3 separate regions of the Homo sapiens genome follow, and regions 1 and 3 are each linked to region 2. Evidence: fine-mapped expression QTL. A gene starts in region 2. Each other region holds a variant in brackets. All regions are shown on one strand. Distances are between the middles of the regions. Region 1 has its middle 32 kb from the start of SNORA2C. Region 2 holds the start of CCNT1 (cyclin T1). Region 3 has its middle 23 kb from the start of SNORA2C.

Region 1 (7,539 bases), 94 kb before region 2:
GTTTGCCAGTTTCTTCTACTCAGGAGCTCTTGTGTCTGTCTGCAATGCTGCCGCTTCTCGGGTGCTGTAGAAAGCTGCGGTACTGGAGTTCCACCTAGTGTTTGTCTGTGGTACTGCAGATTCTGGTGCTGGAACAAACCACGTTGATCACCTTTGTCCTTAACCAGCCCCAACCTGAGCACTGTTCCTGTCAGTGCTTAAATTTGGGCAGCTCCCTCAACAGCATCTTCATAAGTCAGAATGTTGGGTGCACATTTCACTCCTTTCCCTTCCCAGGAAGAAGTGGAGAGTTGGAGGTATCCTTCAGATTATGTCATGCCGTGCCAGAGGGAAGGGTGAGTGAATGTCATAAATTTTCCTGCTAAGTTTTGATAGGGTTGCCTTCGCACTCGACTGAGGGGCAAGAACCTATTAACTGATTTCTGGATTCTTCAAACAGGTTTATATATTGTTAAGTTCATGTTCTCATGGAAGAAAGAGGGTCTGGAATTTCTTATTCTGCCATCTTGCTCATGTCTTTTATCATTTTTCTCTGGTTAGTGGTCACATTTATCTGCTTCTTTGTATTTCTACTAATCGTTCTATTAGAGGCTGGACATTATGGATATCCTGTTGTTGCGTGTCTGGATTTTGGGTTTTTTTTTTTGTTGTTTTTTGTTTTTTTTTTTTTTTTGAGATGGATCCTCTGTCGCTCAGGCTGGAGTGCAGTGGCGCGATCTCGGCTCACTGCAACTTCCGCCTCCCAGGTTCAAGCGATTCTCCTGCCTCAGCCTCCTGACTAGCTGGGATTACAGGCGCCCACCACCACGCCCGGCTAATTTTTGTATTTTTACTAGAGAGGGTGTTTCACCATATTGGTCAGGCTGGTCTCAAACTCCTGACCTTGTGATCCACTTGGCCTTGTTCTAGTAGACAGTTAAGATACTTAAGGTTCAGTTTAATCTTTTCAAGCTTTGTTTTTAAGTTTTGTTCGAATAGGTCTAGATTAGCTTTTATTCTTCGACTGATTTATACCTATACCTAAGGTGTGACCTTTCTGAGATATCTGCTGCATACCCCCAGTTTTCAATGAGATCTCTCCAGCCTGAATGGTTGGAGCTCTAACATCTCCCATTCTGTATGAGTTCTAGTGGTTACTTAACTTACAGCTCCTAGTAATATTCAGCCAAAGTCTCATGAGATTCCTACATAGGTTTCTGAAATTCTTTCTCACTATACCTCCCTCCTCTTCTGCCCTACAAATTTAAACAATCTCTGCCTCTCCAAACTCTGATCTCTGTCTCCTCAGCTTAGGCCCTCCTGGATTCCAGGTCTGGAAAGTGAGTCAAGACAGAAAAACTAATGTGATGGTAGGACTTCCCTTCTCTAAGGAATTAAGGTTCTGTGCTATATGTTTTCCAGTAGCTGGAAACAGATATTTTATGTGTTGTCCATTTTGTAGTTGTTTACATCAGGAGGACTAGACTGGTACCAGTCACTCCGTCATGGGTGGAAGCTGAAAACCTTACCCTCATTTTTAACTTTCTTTTTTTTTTTTGAGATGGTGTCTCACTCTGTCGCCCAAGCTGGAATGCAGTGGCACAATCTTGGCTCACTACAACCTCTGCCTCCCGGGTTCAAGCGATTCTTCTGCTTCAGCCTCCTGAGTAGCTGGGATTACAGGCGCCCACCAACAAGCCCAGCTAATTTTTCTATTTTTAGTAGAGGCAGGGTTTCACCATGTTGGCCAGGATGATCTTGATCTCCTGACCTTCTGATCCACCCGCCTTGGCCTCCTAAAGTGCTGGGATTACAGGCTTGAGCCACCATGCCCAGCCCCCTCATTTTTAACTTTCTAAAACCTCTACTGTTTTACATTCTAGTGCATATTCCACTTTCTCCATTAACTTCCCTTAATCCCTTCTCAATAAACTATGCAGCTCTTTTGTAGCAGTTGTCACATATTCCATACTGTACCATAGTTAATCTGCAGGCAGATCCTATGTCTTGATCATCCAATAATGCCTAACATGTGTGGAGCTCCAAAACGTTTATTTATAAGTTAACCCAATTAAAAAATGGGCTAAGGACCTGAACAGACATTTCTCAAAAGTCATATAAATGACCAATAAATACATGAAAAACTGCTCAGCGTTACTAATTATTAGGGAAACGCAAATTAAAACCACAATGAGATATCACTTCATACCTGTTAGAATGACTTTTATCAAAAAGATGAAAGATAACAAGTGTTGGAGAGGATGTGGAGAAAAGGGAACTCATATATATTGATGGTGGGAATGCAAATTAGTAAAGCCATTATGAAAAATGATATGGAGGTTCCTCAAAAAACTAAAATAGAATTACCATACAACTCATTAATCCCACTTCTGGATATATATCCAAAGGAACTGAAACAAATATGTCAAAGGAATAGCTGTGCCCTCCTGTTCATGGCAACATTATTCCCAACAGTCAAGATATGAAAACAACCTAAGTGTCCATCAACAGGTGAATGGATAAAGAAAATGTAACATATATACACAATGGAATACTATTCAGCCTTAAAAGGGGGGACATCCTATCATTTGCAACAGTGTTGATAAATCTGTAGGACATTATGCTAAGTGAAATAAGCCAGGCACAAAAAGACAAATACTTCATGATCTCACTTATATGTAAAATCTAATAAAGTTGATCTCACAGACGTAGAAACTAAAAGGATGGTTACCAGAGTTTGGGGAAAGGGGTGGAGATGGAGGGAATGGGGAGTTGTTGATCAAAGGGTACAAAGTTTCAGGTAGGAAGAATAGGTCTTAGGATCTATTGCAACAGTGGCGTGAATATGGTCAATAATAATGTGTTATTTATTTCAAAATAGGGCATAAATTTCAAATGCTTCACCATAAAAAAAAATGATAGGTAAGTGAGGTGATGGATATGTTAATTAGCTTGATTTAATCCTGCCACATTTATACATATATCATAGTGTATCCCATAAATGTATGCAATAATGATGCATTGCTCAAAAATACTAATGTTAAATAAATGTTTTAAAATTTTTAATTTGTTGAAACACTGAGATACCCTAAAAAGACACTGTCTTCTTTTCAGTTGAAATACATACAAAGAGAATAAATAACCTCCCCTCTTAGTGAAATGTTGGCCTATATATAGCTTACAGTCCCTCCCAACCCAAAGATTCCCTGAAAAAAATGGTTAGGCAAATTGTGCTACAGCTACATAATGAATATTATATTATTATTTTAAATGTGGGATATATAACATGCTTATAATAAAATGTTAGGTGAAGCATCAGGATTCAAATTGTACATATGATAATAATTATAGCTATATAAAAAGTGCATTAAAAACTAGAAATAAATTTTTAATAGCAGAGTTATTATAATGTGTATGTATTGTTGACATTTTTTTTTTCATGATCTAAGATTAGTCTTGAAAGACAGTTGGCTTGGTTTTCCAATTATCTTCATGAAGGATGGCTTAGGATGATCAGTTATTCCAAAGCCAAACTTTATTTTTATTACATATCGTCCAACATCTTACTGGATTTAGCTAACAGCCTTATTGAGAATACTAGTTCATGTAGTTATCTACAAGTACATTTTGAAACTAGTTTATCCTGAAGGACTGACCAGGAAGTTTTACTGCTCATATTGAGGTATTATAAGCTTTATGGAGACTTTGTTTGAGACTGAGTCACCTTTTCTACACCTAAGACTCTCTACTCTGCCTCTCTTCTGCCAATGTCACACACTTGTCCAGTTTTTTCCAGGAAGAGCCATGCCAGTCTGTTCCTAGAAAATCTCAGCCCCAGCCCAGAGCCTGTGCTGTCCTCCTCCTGGCCCAGATCTGCTCTCTGCTTGCTATGGAAGAAACTCGGTGCTATAGTACTGCAGTGGGATTTCCTATTTACATTTGTCATTCAGCTGCATTTTAGTCTGTCTCCATTATCTTGAAGGGATCTGACCTG[G/A]TTTTATGTTAATCTGTGATGTTAAACTATCCAACTAAACAGGACAGAATACCTACAGAGTTATATATCAGTTTCTTCTTGCCTCCTCCCTGCTAAGAGATCAAAGCGGGACCCCAGGGTCCTAACCCAGGCCAGGGTAGAAAGACTGTTGATTTAGCCCTTAGAGGTCACACTGTGTCCAGAGTTGGTTCCTTCCAGCAGGCTTTTGGTCTTGCTGACTTCAAGAATGAAGCCGCAGACCTTCACAGTGAGTGTTACAGCTCTTAAAGATGGTGTGTCCAGAGTTTGTTCCTTCAGATGTGTCTGGAGTTTCTTCCTTCTGGTGGGTCTGTGGTCTCGCTGACTTCAAGAATGAACCCGCGGACCTTTGCAGCGAGTGTTACAGCTCTTAAAGGTGGTGCAGACACAAAGAGTGAGCAGCAGCAAGATTTATTGTGAAGAGTGAAAGAACAAAGCTTCCACAGCGTGGAAAGGGACCTGAGTGGGTTGCCGGTGCTGGCTGGGGTGGCCAGCTTTTATTCCCTTATTTGGCCTCTCCCATGTCCTGCTGACTGGTCCATTTTACAGAGTGCTGATTGGTCCATTTCACAGAGTGCTGATTGGTGCATTTACAATCCTTTAGCTAGACACAGAGTGCTGATTGGTGCATTTACAATCCTTTAGCTAGACACAGAGCGCTGATTGGTGCGTTTTTACAGAGTGCTGACTGGCACATTTTACAAACCTCTAGCTAGCCACAGAGTGCTGATTGGTGCGTTTTACAATCCTAGCTACAGAGCGCTGATTGGTGCATTTTACAATCCTCTTGTTAGAAAAGTTCTCCAAGTCCCGACTCGACCCAGAAATCCAGCTGGCTTCACCTCTCAACACTCTTGATAGCTCATCCCAATGCTGCAAGAACAAGTTATAACATACATTTCACCTTGGGGCTCATTCTGAGAATTGAATATTTATTAAATTAGCTAATCAGTTAATATTTGCTTTATGAATTATAAAGTATTCCATAAACGCTGGCTTTCATTGTGGCTATTTTCTTTTTGGTCACCCAGGCTGGAGTGCAGTGGTGCAATTATGGCTCACTGCATCCTCAACCTCCTGGGCTCAAGCGAAGCTCCCACCACAGGCTCCAGAGTAGCTGGGACTACAGGCATATGCCACCATGACTGGCTGATTTTTTTTTTTTTTTTTTTTTTTTGTAGAGATGGGGTCTTACTATGTTTCCCAGGCTGGTCTTGAACTTTTTGGCTCAAGTGATCCTCCCTCTTCAGCCTCCCAAAGTGCTGGGGTTATAGGCATGAGCCACAGCATTTGGCTATTATGGTTATTCTTATGTCTTGCCAGTCTTTCCCCACTCATAAGGGGGAGGTAATTAGGTTTGAATGAAACACATGGATGTGGTCCCTTGTAGACCTGAACATTTCCCTGGAACCAAAAGATAGATGCAGCTGCTCCAGTTGGCTCCAAACTACATCTCCTCTCCAAGGAGGCTCTTCTCCAACCTGCACAAGGGAGGGGCGCTCTCCTCCTCTAGAAAAGGCAGTTGCATCCATAGCAGCACATACGGAATAGGGACAACTGTCTTCTGTGAGCACCCTAGGGTGTAGGGAGTCAATAACATGTGGAGACTCCACAGGAGAGAAGCAGAAAGTCCACAGAGCTGTCAGGTGGCAGAAGAATTTAGTCTAGGGGTAAAGACGTCCAGGAGAGAAGTTGACTCCAAGCCCAAAGCAGGTCCGCCCCCATCTTCACTGAGCTTGAGTATCTGGCGTTCATATGGGTCAACCCTGCTCTCTGCCTACAGAGAGGACCACCACTGACCCAACCTAAACATGCAGAAGAGAGTTTATCATTTTTGTTTGTTTGTTTGCTCTGGGAGGTTCCTGTGGATGAGGCCCATATTTGCCAACAAACTTCTGGAGGCTCTAGGAAGAAATTCCACTTCACCACACTGACCCTGTCCCCCGAGCCTCATCTTATTTTCAAACCCCCCAAAAAATGCAGTAAATAACAATGGTTAACCCCTTAAGAATCACCTCTAGGAAGCCAGCACAGATGAGTAATCATGGGTTTTCCAGCACCACCACACCCTTGGTCCTTGTTCTGTGAATTAAATGTAATTCCTCTTCTTTATAAGAGTCTCTCAAATATTTGAAAACAGTTATCATATTCTTCTATTCATTTTGTCTTTTCCAGATTCTCTACATTCTTCATCTATTCCTTGTATTTCACAGTTTTCAAGCCCTAATTCATGATACTCAGGCCGGGTGCGGTGGCTCACGCCTGTAATCCCAGCACTCTGGAAGGCCGAGGCGGGCAGATCACGAGGTCAGGAGATGGAGACCATCCTGGCTAACACGGTGAAACCCCGTCTCTACTGAAAATACAAAAAAGTAGCCGGGCTCGGTGTTGGGCACCTGCAGTTCCAGCTGCTTGGGAGGCTGAGGCAGGAGAATCAGTTGAGCCTGGGAGGTGGAGGTTGCAGTGAGCTGAAATCATAACCCTGCACTCTAGCCTGGGCGACAGAGCCAGAATCCATCTCAAAAAAAAAAAAAAAGAAAAAATTCATGATAGTCAACAAAAAGCCCAAATTATTTTCACATAATTGGCTACTAAGTTGGGTCTTACCCTTCCTATGCTTGTGTAACCGGTTGTTAAAATCTACATGCAGATTTTATATGTGCCTCTGTTAAATTCCGTCTTGTTTTTAGTTTGGCATTCCAAAAGGCAAGATTATTTTGAATTATAATTGTTGCTTACAATATTGATTTTCCCTCTTTGTTTCATATCATCTGAAGTTTGATGAGCCATGCATGCTTACTATGCCTATTGAAGTCATTGCTAAAATAGGTGACGAAGATAAGATCTACAACACATTCTCCTTTTCACTAGACAGATTTCTCCAGATTTTTAGTCATTAATGAATAATTTTGGTGTATGGTAGCCAAACTAAAAGCGTTATCTTTTTTCTTTTTTTCTTTTTTGAGACAGAGTCTCGTTCTGTCGCCCAGGCTGGAGTGCATTGGCACGATCTTGGCTCACTGCAACCTCCGCCTCCCAGGTTCACGCCATTCTCCTGCCTCAGCCTCCTGAGTAGCTGGGATTACAGGCGCACACCACCACACCTGGTTAATTTTTTGTGTATTTTTAGTAGAGACAGGGTTTCACTATGTTGGTCAGACTGGTCTTGAACTCCTGACCTCGTGATCCGCCTGCCTCGGCCTCCCAAAGTGGTGGGATTACAGGCGTGAGCCACTGCACCAGGCTAAAAAAGCGTTATCTCTAAGCACACAGTCATCATCTTTTTATGAAGCTTTACTGAGATTAACATGCCCTTTCTCTGCTCCTTTCTCCTGATTGTTAAATTATTAGTACTGTCAATAAAAGATATTATTATGAGGTTTTACATTAGGTTCAGCATTACAAAGATCCTGGTGATCCCTTATGGGACTTCCAACTATTCTACATAGCATCTATTTAGGAATTTTACCAGGAACCAAGGTCAAATTCATTGGTTGGCAAGGGCAGTGCTTCTAACTTTATAATCATAAGCATTGGCTCAGAGTGTA
Region 2 (7,539 bases):
GGATTACAGGCGTTGAGCCACGGCACCTGGCCCACAAAAATCTTAATTCACAAATCCAAAAAGTTTCCTGTGCAGTTACTCCCAATACTGTTTCTGCCAGTTTCTTACATTTCAGGAGCTATGTCTAGCTTCATAAACTCTCTTTCTACAGCATTAAAAAAGTAATAATAAATCTGAAAACCCACCATTCTAAGGATACGAAATAAGCATCCTCAAAAGCATAATCTTTTTCTTTTTGAGATGGAGTTTCGCTCTTGTTGCCTAGGCTGAAGTGCAATAGCGATCTCGGCTCACCACAACCTCGGCCTCCCCAGTTCAAGTGATTGCCTCAGCCTCCTGAGTAGCTGGGATTACAGGCATGAAACTCCACGCCTGGCTAATTTTTGTATTAGTAGAGATGGGGTTTCTCCATGTTGGTCTCAAACTCCCGACCTCAGGTGATCCGCCCGCCTCAGCCTCCTAAAGTTGTGGGATTATAGGCTTAAGCCACCGTGCCCAGCAGGATAATCTTTTCCTTAAAAAAAAAAAAAAATAAAAAAAAAAAAAAAAAAAAAAAGCAGGGAAATACTTGACTCACAAATCCATTTGAAGTATACAGCCGGTGCAGTGGCTCACACCTGTAATCCCAACACTTTGGGAGGCTGAGGCGGGCAGATCACCTGAGGTCAGGAGTTCAAAACCAGCCTGGCCAACGTGGTGAAACCTCGTCTCTACTAAAAATACAAAAATTAGCCAGGTGTGGTGGCACATGCATGTAATCCCAGCTACTTGGGAGGCTGAGGAAAGAGGATTGCTTGAATCTGCGAGGCGGAGGTTGCAAAGGGCCAAGATCGTGCCATTGCACTCCATCCTGGGCAACAAGAGCGAAACTCCATCTCAAAAAAAAAAAAATCAATCCATATGAAGTACTCATCAAGTTTATCCCTATTACCTTGGCGTTTTATTAAGTAAATACAGTCCTTCCTAGAACTGGGATATCACTATGCATTCAATTCCAAGTCATTTATAATAATGTTAAATAGGACCATTTCAAATAGCTACACTGAAAAGATCACTATTTATAATTCTGTACAAAAAAATAAAATTTCTTTATTAGTATAATTTTATTCTTCCTGTTCTTTGTAAAATTTTTTTTACCTTTTTTTTTTTTTTTGTAGAAACGGGGTCTCACCGTGTTGCCCAGGCTGGTCTCCAACTCCTGGGCTCAATCAGTCCTCCCACCTGAACCTCCCAAGGTGCTGTGATTATACATAAGAATGAGCCACCATGCATAGCCTATTTTTCATGTTCTTAAAAGTCATTTTCCCAGTTATTATTACATAATGTGCTTTCCCCTCCAACTGCTGACTGGAATTTTATCAAAGGCTTTTGGAAAATCTAAGTAACTTACATTTACTTCTTTTGCTGTGACCATATTTTATAAACTACTTCAAAATTAATGCCAGGAATGGCGGCTCATGACTGTAATCCCAACATTTTAGAAGGCGGAGGCGGAAGGATCCCTTGAACCCTGGAGTTTGAGACCAGGCTGGACAACACAGGGAGACCCCATCTTCACAAAAAAAATTTTAAAAATTACCAGATATGTTGGCAAGCCTGTGGTCCCAGTTACTTGGGAGGCTACGGCAGGAGGACTGCTTGAGCCCAGAAGGTTAAGGCTGCAATGAGCCATAATCAAATCACTGCATTCCACCATGGACAACAGGGCAAGACCCTGCCTGTCTCCCTACCCCAGCAAGAAAAAGAAAGCTATACCTAAATTCCACATGATTTCCCCTTTAATGTTACTCCTCCAACCCCAAAATGTTGACTTTAGATGTCTGATAATCTGTTTTTTGGGGTTTTTTTTGAAGACAGGGTCTCACTCTGATGCCCAGGCTGGAGTGAAGCGACTCAATCTTGGCTCACTGCATCCTCAACTCCCTGAGTTCAAGCAATCCTCTTGCCAGCTGCTGGAGTAGCTGAGACCACAGATGCATACCACAACACCCAGCTACTTGCTTTTTGTTTTTGTTTTTGATATTTTGTAGAAATGAGGTCTCATTATGTTGCCCAGGCTGGTTTTGAACTCCTGGGCTCAAGTGATCCTCCCATCTCAGTCTCTCAAAGTGCTGGGATTACAGTTGTGAGCCACTGCACCCGGCCTAATCTACTTCTTTAGAGAATCGACATGGATATACTAAATCCACTAGACAAGTAGACACTTAACAGGAAAACTGAAAAGCTGGATTCAGAACAGCAACACAGCACATAATGGAAGTGATCAACCCTAAATTCTAAAGTTCAAGTTACAGTTCAGTAGCAAAGACCAACCACAAATGGAATAGGTAGGTGGAATCAATCACAAAAGGATTATATCATATAAAAAAATTATACTTACATTTCCAGGGAACTGTGTGAAGGACTGAATCATGTAGAATCGATGCATGTATACTATAGCAGTGTTGATAGTCAATTGTGAGCTGAAGTGTTCAAGTTAAGATCCAAAAACAGGCAGGTATAATTCTGGAAAAGATAACCTCTATCTCCCTCCCAAAAGGATGAAATGGCCAAGCAAGTAGATACTACTAAATGAAAATCATACTTATCTCTCCAAATCAAAGAATATGTCTGTTTTCTTTCACCAAATTATTAATCGCCAACTGACACTTAGCACAATGCCTTACACATAACAAATATTTAATATAAATGTACTGAATGAATAAACAAACATCTCAGGATGTATGAATCTAGACAGATTTTTTTAAAAACTATATAAGGCGGCCAGGCGCGGTGGCTCACACTCTGTCGCCCACACTGGAGTGCGGTGGCACCATCTTGGCCCACTGAAACCTCTACCTCCCAAATTCAAGCGATTCTCCTGCCTCAGCTTCCCCAGTAGCTGAGATTACAGGCGCCCACCAACAGACCTGGCTACTTTTTGTATTTTTAGTAGAGACATGGTTTCACCATGTTGGCCAGGCTGGTCTTGAACTCCTGGCCTCAACTGATCGACCTGCCTTGGCCTCCGAAAGTGCTGGTATTACAGGCGCGAGCCACCGCGCCTGGCTGACAACCTTAATGACAACACACATACAAAAAGGAAAGCATTTTAAGGATGCACTGAAATAGAATTTCGAACAAAAAGATTTAACTCCATACTGACAGGATGCTTAGGAAACAAACCTGGACATCAGCAGGAAACAAACTGGCGATAAAACAGACACCCATTTTGAGATGAACACACCCTTAAGATACACACATTACTGTCAGCCACACATTTAAATAGAAGCTGCACCCAAGAAAATTTTCACACGCAGAGTGGAAAGAAATTTAAAACTATACTAGTTTTCTCCACCATAAAATAAGTGTATTTCCTAACAAACAAAAATATGTGGGAGAGGTTACCTCATTTTTTTTTTAATTTTTTTTTTCTGAGACGGAGTTTCACTATTGTTGCCCAAGCTGGAGTGCAGTGGCGCCATCTCGGCTAACTGCAACCTCCGCCTCCCGGGTTCAAGCGATTTTCCTGCGTCGGCCTCCTGACTAGCTGGGATTACAGCTGCCCGCCACTACGCCGGGGTAATTTTTTGTATTTTTAGTAGAGACAGGGGTTTAATCATGTTGGCCAGGCTGGTCTCGAACTCCTGACCTCAGGTGATCCACCCGCCTCGGCCTCCCAAAGTGCAGAGATTACAGGCGTGAGCCACCGCATCCAGCCGTTACCTCATTTTTGAAAATGAAATACATATCATCACTCTAAGTAAGTTAAGGACCCGGTATTTTGTAAACTATTTAAAACATTAGATTCGTGGGTATCCCCTACAAACGTAAACTAACATCTTTCCTCTGAAATTCTATAAAACAGTAGCTACTAACTGAGCATCTGAATGCAAAGCACTGTGCTGGACACAGAATCAAACACAAGAGGTATTATCCCATTTTATAGACAAGACGGCCAAAAATTTGAGAGGTCACTTAAACAGCTAGTAGATGAGGAATGGATTTTGGACCAAGGCTGAGGCATTAATTCTAGTCCACCCTTTATAACACTTTCAGGTACTGAATTTCTCGAAATTTACACACTAGGTTTGGGAGGCAGCCGTCAACAGAGAAACCTCTGCCAGACCTAGACCCCTAGGGCACAGCGGAAAATGAGAATCTTAACGTCACCAGAGCAGATCAGAACACAATGAAGACAGAGTTGGAAGGGCTGGTTAAAACACAAAGCCGGGAAGGATACGAATTCCCAGCAAGGCTGGCGGCACGGGTGAGCGAGCGGGAAATCAACTCTGCCTCGCTTCCCTAGCGCTAACTGAGTTTCAGCCCGCCCCATCGTGGGCTCTCCCAACTAGACATCCAGCTTCTGCCCACCTTCTTCCCCACTTTCGTCCCCCCCACAGAGCCTGAGACCCGGACGCCAGAGCATGGCGGGACCAACTCCAAGGCCGAAGGCCTAGGCCACAAGGATACACGTTAAGACGCTGCCCCATGTCCTGAAGCAGATTGGCCGCCTGCTGGCGATAAGAAAGTTCTTTATCTGGGTCCACGCCAAAACGACGGGATGGGCTATTTTCCAGCTGTTCTCGAGTGAAATACCACCGTTTGTTGTTGTTCTTCCTCTCTCCCTCCATAGTGCTTCAACCAGAAGGCAGCGGCGAAGGCTGCAGGCACTTCCCAGCGTCACCTAAGAGGCGACCCACATCCGCTGTGCGGGGGCAACTGCGACTTGACGAACTTCCGCTAAGCGTCGACCGCCGGGTTGTTACTTGCCTCCGTAGAGGAAGCAAAAGTCAAAGGACCTACTTCCGGAATGCACCTCGCTACACCCCGTAGCCGAGTTAACAGCCAATATGCGACCAGAAAAAACCTTGAGGCGAGGACGCAGGCGCGTCACGTGACCGTTGGGCGGTGGAGTGGGGTTAGAAGTTCTTTCTTAAAAACCGTGTATCTTCCCGCGAGAACCGGATTGAGCGTTGGCGCCCCGGGTCAGGCTGCGAGGCCGCAATTATAGTGGGATGGGGCGGCCGCCCACGCGCCGCTTGGCGGTTCTTACGAGAACTTTGTTTGTGACGGCAGTGGTGATGTAAAATGGGGCAGATGGGCCGGGCGCGGTGGTTCACGCCTGTAATCCCAGCACTTTGGGAGCCCGAAGCGGGCGGATCACGAGGTCAGGAGTTCGAGACCAGCCTGGCCAATATGGTGAAACCCCCGTCTCTACTAAAAATACAAAATTAGCCGGCGTGGTGTCGCGCGCCTGTAGTCCCAGCTACTCGGGAAGCTGAGGCAGGAGAATCGCTTGAACCCGGGAGGCGGAGATCGCAGTGAGCCGAGATCACGCCACTGCACCCCAGCCTCCAGCCTGGGTGAGAAAGCGAGACTCCGTCTCAAAAAAATAAAATAAGTAAAAATGTGGCAGATGAACTTGAAAGAGAAAGTAGGTGAGGCTGTCAGAAACTGAAAAACAGAATCAAATGGTGGGGCTCTTTCGTATATCGGAGCATAAAGCAACTAGAAGGCTGTTACATTGTTGGTAGCAATGTAAAATGCGACAACCCATTTGGAGAGGTCGCTTTAATGTGTAGCCAAAGGCATGAAAACATTCTCACGTTGTTCGCCAGTGATCCAACTTAAAGGAATAAAATGAAATTAATAACATTAATTAAGAGCTTACATGTCCCAGGCACAATACTGACTTAAATATACTGTTTCATTTATTCAGCACAACTCTAAGAGGTAATTTTTAAGTACGTTTGCGAATGGGTGAACTAAAACTGCCCCTTGAGTGTGGAAAGCCTCCACCACTACCCCTCACTTGCACAGATTAGCAAGTTCTTGCCCTCTGTCAAAATATTTCCCAGCTCCTTTGCCGGGCGCGGTGGCTCAAGCCTATAATCCCAGCACTTTGGGAGGCCAAGGCGGGTGGATCACCTGAAGTCGGGAGTTCGAGACCAGCCTGGCCAACATGGTGAAACCTCATCTCTACTGAAAATACAAAAATTAGCCAGGCGTGGTGGCGCACGCCTGTACTCCCAGCTACTCGGGAGGCTGAGGCAGGAGAATCATTTGAACCCGGGAGGCAGAAGTTGCAGTGGGCCGAAATCGCGCCACTGCACTCCAGCCTGGGCAACATTGCGAGACTCCTTCTCAAAAAAAAAAAAAAAAAAAAAGATACATCCCAGCTCCAGCCTCTGATAACTGTTTGGTGCTGGGCAAGATAGTTAACTTCTCTATGCCTCTTTTCTGTGATAATACCTATGTTTTAGATAGTGAAAGGGAGTAAAGATTTAATGAGTAAAAAGTATTTATAATAGTACCTAGTACTTAGAAAATATTCAGTAGCCCTTATTGTTATAATATTTGTTACATTGTATTGAAATTGAAGGCAAGAGCAATGCCTTCATTTTTGTATGGCACTTACCTAGTAAAGCCCTGGCCCTAGTAAATAGTCCATAAATCTTTGTCAGATAAATGTGCAAAACACCCACAATACAGAAACTGAGGCTTTGGGAGTTTGCCCTCACTACACCACTAATAAGTGTAGATCTTAAATCTAATTCCATTGATCTTTCCATTCACGCAAGCTGTATTCCTGCTTTTCTGGAACCATATTCAGTTTACCTTGATTAAATATGGGTAATTTTAGATAGATTTGGATAATATTAGAATCCTTCATCTTGCTTTGATAATATTTTGGGTTTTGTCATTTCTAGGCATGGGTGATCTTACTATGCTTGATTGTCATTCATTCTCAGAAGTATTTCTTTCCATTCAGGTCACCTCTGCCATATACTGCCTGTAGTTAGTATTAGCTCCATTTTACCCTGGAGAAATTGAGGTTCAGGAAGATTTAAATGACTTACTTCTAGTTATAAAGTAAAAGAACTTGGGATTTCAAATTTCTTCCCTCACAGACTCTTTACTATTAAGAGAATAAGCACTTACAAAATAGATTTTTTAGTAGAATAAGCACTTTTTCAGTTATGTAGTCATGTATGTTATCTTTTGAACAGCTGTGTTAGTCCATTTTCACGCTGCTGATAAAGACAAACCCAAGACTGGGCAATTTACAAAGGAAAGAAGTTTAATGGAGAACTCACAGTTCCACGTGGCTGGGGAAGCCTCACAATCATGGCGGAAGGCAAGGAGGAGCAAGTGACATCTTACATGGATGACAGCAGGCAAACAGAGAGCTTGTGCAGGCAAACTCCCATTTTTTTAAAACCATCAGATCTCATGAGACTCATTCACTATCATGAGAACAGCACAGGAAAGACCCACCCCCATAATTCAATCACCTCCCACCGGGTTCCTCCTACCATATGTGGAAATTGTGGGAGTTGCAATTCAAGATGAGATTTGGGTAGGGACACAGTGCCAAACCATATCATTCCGCCCCCAGCCCCTCCCAAATCTCATGTCCTCACATTTCAAAATACAGTCATGCCTTCCCCACAGTCCCCCAAAGTCTCAACTCATTTCAGCATTAACTCAGAAGTCCACAGTCCAAAGTCTCATCCGAGACAAGCAAGTTCCTTCCACCTATGAGCCTGTAAAATC
Region 3 (7,539 bases), 85 kb before region 2:
GCTGCTCTCTAATTTTGACATTTCTATCACTTAAAAAACGTTTGGGGCCAGATGCAGTGGCTCACGCCTATAATCCCAGAACTTTGGGAGGATCGCTTGAGCGCAGAAATTTGAGACCAGCCTGGACGATATAGGGAGACTTCATTTCTGTTAAATTTTTTTTTAAGTAGCCAGGCATGGTGGCATGTGCTTGTAGTCCCAGCTACTTGGGAGGCTGAGGTGGGAGGATGGCTTGAGCCCAGGAAGTCGAGGCTGTAGTGAGCTGTGATCGCACCACTACACTCCTGCCTGGGTGAGACCCTATCTCAAAAAAAAAAAAAAAATGTGGGTGGAGCAGGTTGGGAAAGCACTGTAGAACAGTAGACCATTCGGGAGCCTTAGAGTCAGGCAAACCTGGGTTCACATCATGACTCCATCATAATGACCTGGAATAATTGACTTGAACAAACGGGTCTTAGTTTCTCTTCCACATCTGGGAGACAATAAGGCCTGTCTCTGATGCGTGCTGTGATGAGTAAATGGATAAGCCAAGCATGGAGTGTGGCCATAATAGTATCTTTGTTAATATTAACTACCTTCCTCTCTTCTCTTGGGCCCAGACCTGGAAGAAGAAGCAGTCCAGTGGTGACAGTGGGAACCAGACCACCTGGCTGATCCTAGTGGGCTTCGGGGAGCTGCAATACCTGGGCTTCCTTCCCTTCACTCTCTTCCTGGCCATCTATGTGGTGACAGTTGGGGGCAATGCCCTCATCATGCTGGCTGTGGCCTCTAGTCGGACACTGCACCCACCAATGTACTTCTTCCTCTGCCACTTCTCCCTGCTGGAGATTGGCTATACCTCCAACGTCATACTATGGCTGTTGCAGAGTTTCTTGGAGGGGAAGGAAGTCATCTCTCTAGTCAGCTGTCTGGCTCAGTTCTACGTGTTTTCCTCGCTGGCTGCAGCTGAGTGCCTCCTGCTATCTGCCGTGTCCTATGACTGTTACTTGGCCATCTGCTGCCCCCTTCACTATCCTGCCCTGATGAGCACCTGGTTTTGTCACTGCCTGGCCGCTGGTGCTTGGTTCAGTGGCTTCTTCTCCTCTGCCTTCACTATGGCCCTGGCAGCACCTCTGTCCTGGCAGCAGGGAGATTGACCACTATTTCTGTGAGTTTGCTCCAGTAGTCAGGCAGTTCTGCGGGGATGTGGGAGTCATGTAGGGAGCTGAAGTCAGCATCTCAGGCTTCCTGACACTGGCCGCCTTCCTACTGATTGTGGCATCCTCTGCCTTCATTGAGGGCTGTACTGCAAATACCCTCAGGCCATGAGAGGCAGAAAGCCTTCTTCACCTGTTCCTCCCACCTCACCGTAGTTGGGGTATTTTATGGCACCCTCATTGTGGTCTATGTGGCCCCAATAGAACACATGTCCCCTTGCTTCTAAAGGTCTTCTCTGTCCTCTACACAGTGTTCACTCCCATGGTCAACTCCATCATCCACAGCCTCAAGAACCAAGAGGTGAAGGGGGCTCTGCATAGGCTCAGGGGACAGCTCATCCCAGGACACACTCACTAAGGAGGACAGGACAGCTTTTGACTTCTTCCTGGATTGATTTCAGCTTAGCCCCTTCCTCAAAGTCTGATGGACTAGAGACCACTGCAATAAAAAGATGGAGACTGTGGGATTGAAAATGGATGTCTACCAAAATGAGGTAACTGTATTTTCCAATTGGAATTGGCCTCCCTATCCCCAGTGGTAGCAGCTTCCCCAACCCCAGCGACAGCAGCCTCTGTCCCTGTCTGAGGGAATTAATCCCACATTGCCTGAAGAAACTGTAATTGCCTCCCCTGGGGCAGTTCCCATGCAAGACAATGCTGATTCTCCTCAGAACCCATACCCATCACTCCTCTTTGGTTCTAAAACTATAGCTAGACCCAAGTCCCTGCAGGCCTCTAAAGGTGAGCACAAAGTGTGACCCATGAGGACATGCACTACAATCCAAAAGAATTACTTGGGTTTTCTAATTTATACAGACAGAAATCCAGTGAACATGCATGGAAATAGATCTTGAAATTGTGGGATGATGATGGAAGGAACGTAAAGTTGAATAAAGCCGAATGTATTGATATACATTTGTGACAGTGGGAACCAGACCACCTGGCTGATCCTAGTGGGCTTCGGGGAGCTGCAATATCTGGGTTTCCTTCCCTTCACTCTCCCTTCAAGGCTCACTAAAGCAGAAATTCTGCATTTAATGTTGCAGCTTGGGGAACTAGGAAGGATTCTAACAGTTTGTTTAGTTGGTTGACTGAAACATGAACCAAAAGGTGGGATACAGTAAGTGAATTAGAAATGCTGGATCTGCCTTGATTTAATGTAGAGAAAGGATTCAACGGCTAAAGGATATTGAAATATTAGAGTGGATTTGTTACTTAAGACCTACTTACCCATGTGAGAGGGCCCAGAAGACATACTTTTCACTATGACTAAGAAATAGGGAAGCCCCGGCATCCTTGAAGAGCTCTGTAATCTCTCTTCACTGTAGCCCAGACCTTACGGTGAGGACTGCAGTCACTGAATTGGGAAACCTACATTCAATGGGAGTGACTGCATCCTGAGATGGCAGAGGCCAAGTGGCAGCACTCAACCTCCAAAGGCAAGGTGTACATGGTTGCCACAATGGACAGCAGAGTCAAATCAGCAATCAGAATAGCCGGACTCACACAGACCTATGGCATACTGTTTCTAGAAATGCAATAGATAAGAAGCCTACTAAATTCTTACTTGATCAGAAAAGTTCTAAATCAAGTGAACATCAGCTAAGTTTTTATCAGGGTTATTCTACTAGTGCCACAAGAGAGTTAGATTGGGATTGTAAGAATGAAGGGGAAGTGATGATGAGGGTAACAAGAGGGATTGAGAATCTCAGCCATCCATCTTATTGGTTACAAGAAATGAAACTATTTCAACTTCCCTTGAATATCTTTCTTCATTTT[T/C]CTCCATGCCAAACCTACTCTTTCTCATGTAGAGAAACCTTCCAAGGATGGTTTTTCTGTGCTGCCTTCCAAGGATTCTCCTCCGCTACCTTTCCACCTTTTCTCTTGCATGTACCTTGGGATATAGAACAAAAGTGAATATATACAAGTGAGTATTTGGCTGGGAGATGAGGCTGGAAAGGTTGATTGGGAAACAGACTGTGATTGATTGATTACTGGTCATTCCAATTTTAATTCCATAAAATGACACCAAATAATTTTGGATTTATTTGGAATAAAATTCCAAATTAATAAATTTATTATAATTATAATTATTATTTTATTTGGAATAAAATTCTAAATTTATTAATAAAAGCATTTAATAAATTGTTGTATATTTTCCATGGGCTAATTATTGCTTAGGACTGGGAGTGCATATGAATTATAAATGATCTCTGACATTGAGGATCTCATAGTTTTTTCAACTCAGTCTTTTTTTTTTTCTTTTCTTTTTTTTTTTTTTTGAGATGGAGTTTCACTCTTATTGCCCAGGCTGGAGTGCAATGGCACCATCCGGCTCACTGCAACCTCTGCCTCTCGAGTTCAAGTCATTCCCCTGCCTCACCCTCCCGAGTGGCTGGGATTACAGGCGCCTGCCATCACACCCGGCTAATTTTTTTTTGTATTTTTAGTAGAAACGGGGTTTCACCATGATGGCCAGGCTGATCTCGAACTCCTGACCTCAGGTGATCTGCCCGCCTTGGCCTCCCCAAGTGCTGGGATTACAGGGGTGAGCCACTGCACCCGGCCTCAACTCAGTCTTAAAAATGGATTTTCATTTCAGATAGCACTAGTACAGCATAAGTTATGTCTCATCTTTCCCATGGCCTATTGGATGACCTCTCATCATGGAGCACTCTCCCTTTTCTATCCATACCTTTTGCTCTCTCTGACACAGGGATCTGCTTGGTTCAGTGTGAGAGTAATTTGAACACCCAGGCCTTTAATGGAAAAAACTGCTGATGGCAGTAGTGACAACGGGATTTTCCAGCTGAACAACTTCTGATACAAAGACCACAAGCATTCCTCAGAAAATGCCTGCAACCTAATGTGCAGCAGTAAGGACTCTATCCCTCTGAGGGCTGGATGAAGTGGGAGCAGGTAAAATAGGTGCAAAACTGAATGCACTGCTCCCTATCACCTGACTGTCAGCCTGTGCTGGGGAAGCTGAATATGGGGAATAAACAGTCCTCACACTGAAACAAGATCCCACAGAGATCATCCTGACAAAAAGAAGGAAGAAAGACTGGCCCCTGGCTAAGCCCCCTGATTCACAATCTCCTTTTCATCTTCCCCATTCATGGGTTCCCACCCTTCAAGACATGTTATCTGCTCCTAGTACACACATCATCCCACATACCAGCACTCCAGACATTCTGAGCAGCTTCCCGAAAACAAAAGCTCTCCCTAGTCCATCATGTCCTAGATGCCTTCTGGAAGGACCAGTGCTCAGAGAAGGAGTCTAAGCAAAAACAAGAAAACCCAGGCAAAATGGAAGGCAAACCCAGAGAGGAGCTCCAGAGAGAAAGGATTTCTGAATCTCAGGATTCACTTTCCTCTGGGAATTCCCCTCTAAAAATGATCAATAATTCAAAATAGAAAAAGAGAGATTTCCCTCCCCACTCATCCACTTGTCCTTTCAGAGTTTATTGATGATAACATTGGTGATGACAAACTGCCAAGAGGACTGTGTAAGATCCTAAAGTGATATCTGCCTGGTAAGAGGAATGTGAAGGGCAGAGAGCAACTGTTCTGCCAGTGGGGTTTGGTGGGAGAGGGGCAGATAATATCTGGGCTACTGATGTTAGTGGCATCTGTGCTGCAGGATTTGCCATGGGCTTTGGGAGAGGGTTGAGAATGTTCCCCTGATGAGAAAATGAGGCAGAGTAATCATGTGATGCATTCATCCCAGGCATCATGGCAGCACCCACATGCATCCTCTTCACCTGGGACTCTCCAACAGCATAAATTGGCTCCAGCCCGCAAGCCCAACTTTCCCTCAGCTGAGCCCCTTTCAGACTTCTGCCCCTGCCTCTGATCTATACTTTATTTCTCTATCCTTAAGGCAGCCTGGGTAAAACACTGCAAAGCCAAAGATTTGTCTAAATACCTGACCAGCTGTAAGCTGTGAGACTGTTTAAACATGGCTCTTGGAGAAGGTAGCCCAGAAGATGGGGTAATTTCTCAAGGTTCTTTGAAGTTCTGAATCTTCCCCCATCTCTGCCTCCAAAATAAAAGTTACTCAAGTTCACCTGTCTCAAGCAGAATGCTTAAGGACTGGGTCAAGATGGAGCCTTTCCTACATGATATAAACAGCTGGATATCCCATTCTCTCCAAGCCCACCACTGAAGTTTCCTATATCTCCTCTGGAAAGATGATTAAGGAAAATTATTGTCTCAGAAATTCCTGAGGGTCATCCAGATTGGGCTAAAATTGACAGCTGAATATGGCATTCTAGATGCTAGCTCTCAAAATGCCAGCTCTTATAAAATTCATTTATTGGAGAGGGTTAATCTTATTCTCCATCACCAGAAGGAGACTCAAGAGGAAACAGAAGGAAATTGTGGGAGAGGTTTGATTTACAGACAGGGAAAGATTGGCAGAATATCAGGGTGATGAGCTTAGGGAAATAACTAAACTGCTGTAAGAAAGTCCCAAAAATATGGTGCTAGACATTTATTTGTCTCTCACAATAGTCTAAGATGGGTAGACAGGCTCCTTTATTCCACAAAGACATTCAGAAACCCAGGTTCTTTCCATTTTGCATCTCCACCATTCTCTTTATTAAAATATATTTTATTTATTTTTTATTTTATTTATTTATTTTTAGATGGAGTCTTGCTCTCTGTCACCCAGGCTGGAGTGCAGTGGCGCGATCTCAGCTCACTGCAACCTCTACCTCCCAGGCTCAAGCAATTCTCCTGTCTCAGCCTCCCGAGTAGCTGGGATTACAGGCGCACACCACCACACCTGGCTAATTTTTGTATTTTTAATAGAAATGGGGTTTCACCACGTTGGCCGAGCTGGTCTCAAACTCCTGACCTCAAGCAATCCACCCACCTAGGCCTCCCAAAGTGCTGAGATTACAGATGTGAGCCACCATGCCTGGCCACTTTACGTTTTACTTTGGAATGTGGCATCTGTCTATTGTCTTTAGGACTCAGCTGAAACTAAAATGAAAAGCGTTTCTCATTTTATCTCCTGATTCATTGTCTTTTAACAGTTTATAAAGCACTTTCAGACACTAGATCTTATTTGACCCTTGCCATACCCTCCGTGTTACAGAAATCATTCCCCAATTGGCACTATCACTGCCTTGCTGCTCCTGCAGCTGCCTCCTTCTCTGATGGATTTCATCATTTCTGCTGCTGTTGCTGTCGCTGCTGTTGCTGTCGCTGCTGCTGCTACAACTGCTGGCTCAAATACTTTCCTTGTCTTGTTGGCAACACACCATGGTTAAGTCCCAGCTGAGGGTTCCCAGTAGGAGAAGGAAGGAGTGGAAGAACAGGAAAATAAAGTGAAGAGGAAATAAAGAGAGGCCAGCTTGTACTATAGCATTAGTGTTACACAGCTCTATACTAGGGCTAATTATCTCCCAAATCTCCTAGAGGAAGTTCTCTATATCTCCACATTCCAGGAAGCAGCAAGGTGGCTCACAACTATCCAGGAATCCTGTCCGGACTGGGCATGGTGGTTCACGCCTGTAATCCCAGCACTTTAGGAGGCCAAGGTGGGTGGGTCACCAGAGATCAGGAGTTCAAGACCAGCCTGGCCAACATGGCAAAACCCCGTCTCTACTAAAAACACAAAAATTAGCCAGGCGTGGTGCTGTGGGCCTATAATCCCAGCTACTCAGGAGGCTGAGGCAGGAGAATTGCTTGAACCCAGGAGGCAGAGGCTGCAGTGAGCCAAGATCACACCACTGCACTCCAGCTTGGGCAATAGAGTGAGACTCCATCTTAAAAAAAAAAAAAAAAAAAAGAATTCTGTCCCCTCCTTGGGTAGAATGAATTATTATTCCCAATTCCTTACCTCCTACGTCAGTGTGATCTTCCAGACCACACATAGGACAGAGTATTATTTCCCCACTACATCAAGGTTGAACTTGGCCATGCAACCTGCTTTAGCCAATGAAATGTTAGCAGATATGACTAAGTTGAAATGAAAAATGTGCTTGCCTGGTGTCATTTGGCTTCTTGTGCTCTGTGATTGCCAGAAGAGAGCTGCACTCTCTATCTACCTACATCCCAGAATGAAACATTTAGAACAGACCTGATCCCAACCCAAATCCTGGCTCCTAAAGTAGAGTCTCCTCCCCAACCCAACCCATCAGCAATCCACCAGACCCAGGAGCAAGAAAAATAAATGCTGTTGTAAGCCACTGAGTTTTTGGGTGGCTTATAACACAGCAAAGACACTGACAAATACTCTTCCTCACTCCTCTACTTCTCCAAAGAGTCCTCTTTACTCTCCCACCACGAACCCTAACCCCCCTTAATTAGCAAGATTCTTCGTTGTGTGCAT

What was found. PIP is the estimated chance that this variant, and not a neighbour inherited with it, causes the effect.
Region 1: its variant is the best candidate, but not a certain one, in a credible set for the expression of CCNT1 in fibroblasts (GTEx, PIP 0.63).
Region 3: its variant is the best candidate, but not a certain one, in a credible set for the expression of CCNT1 in whole blood (INTERVAL, PIP 0.83).

The regions. Positions count from the first base shown.
Region 1 is chr12:48,618,544-48,626,082 of GRCh38, forward strand. No RefSeq gene overlaps it. Among named protein-coding and RNA genes, the nearest start is that of SNORA2C, 32 kb to the right of the region's middle. The variant G/A (reference allele first, on the strand shown) is at 3,974.
Region 2 is chr12:48,712,063-48,719,601 of GRCh38, forward strand. CCNT1 (cyclin T1) reads right to left here and starts at 4,645. Exons shown (of 9, transcript NM_001240.4): 1 at 4,453-4,645; 2 at 2,381-2,462. The coding sequence starts at 4,613. RefSeq lists enhancers at 4,410-4,689, 4,760-5,760, 5,160-5,399.
Region 3 is chr12:48,627,262-48,634,800 of GRCh38, forward strand. It overlaps the pseudogene OR11M1P. Among named protein-coding and RNA genes, the nearest start is that of SNORA2C, 23 kb to the right of the region's middle. The variant T/C (reference allele first, on the strand shown) is at 2,976.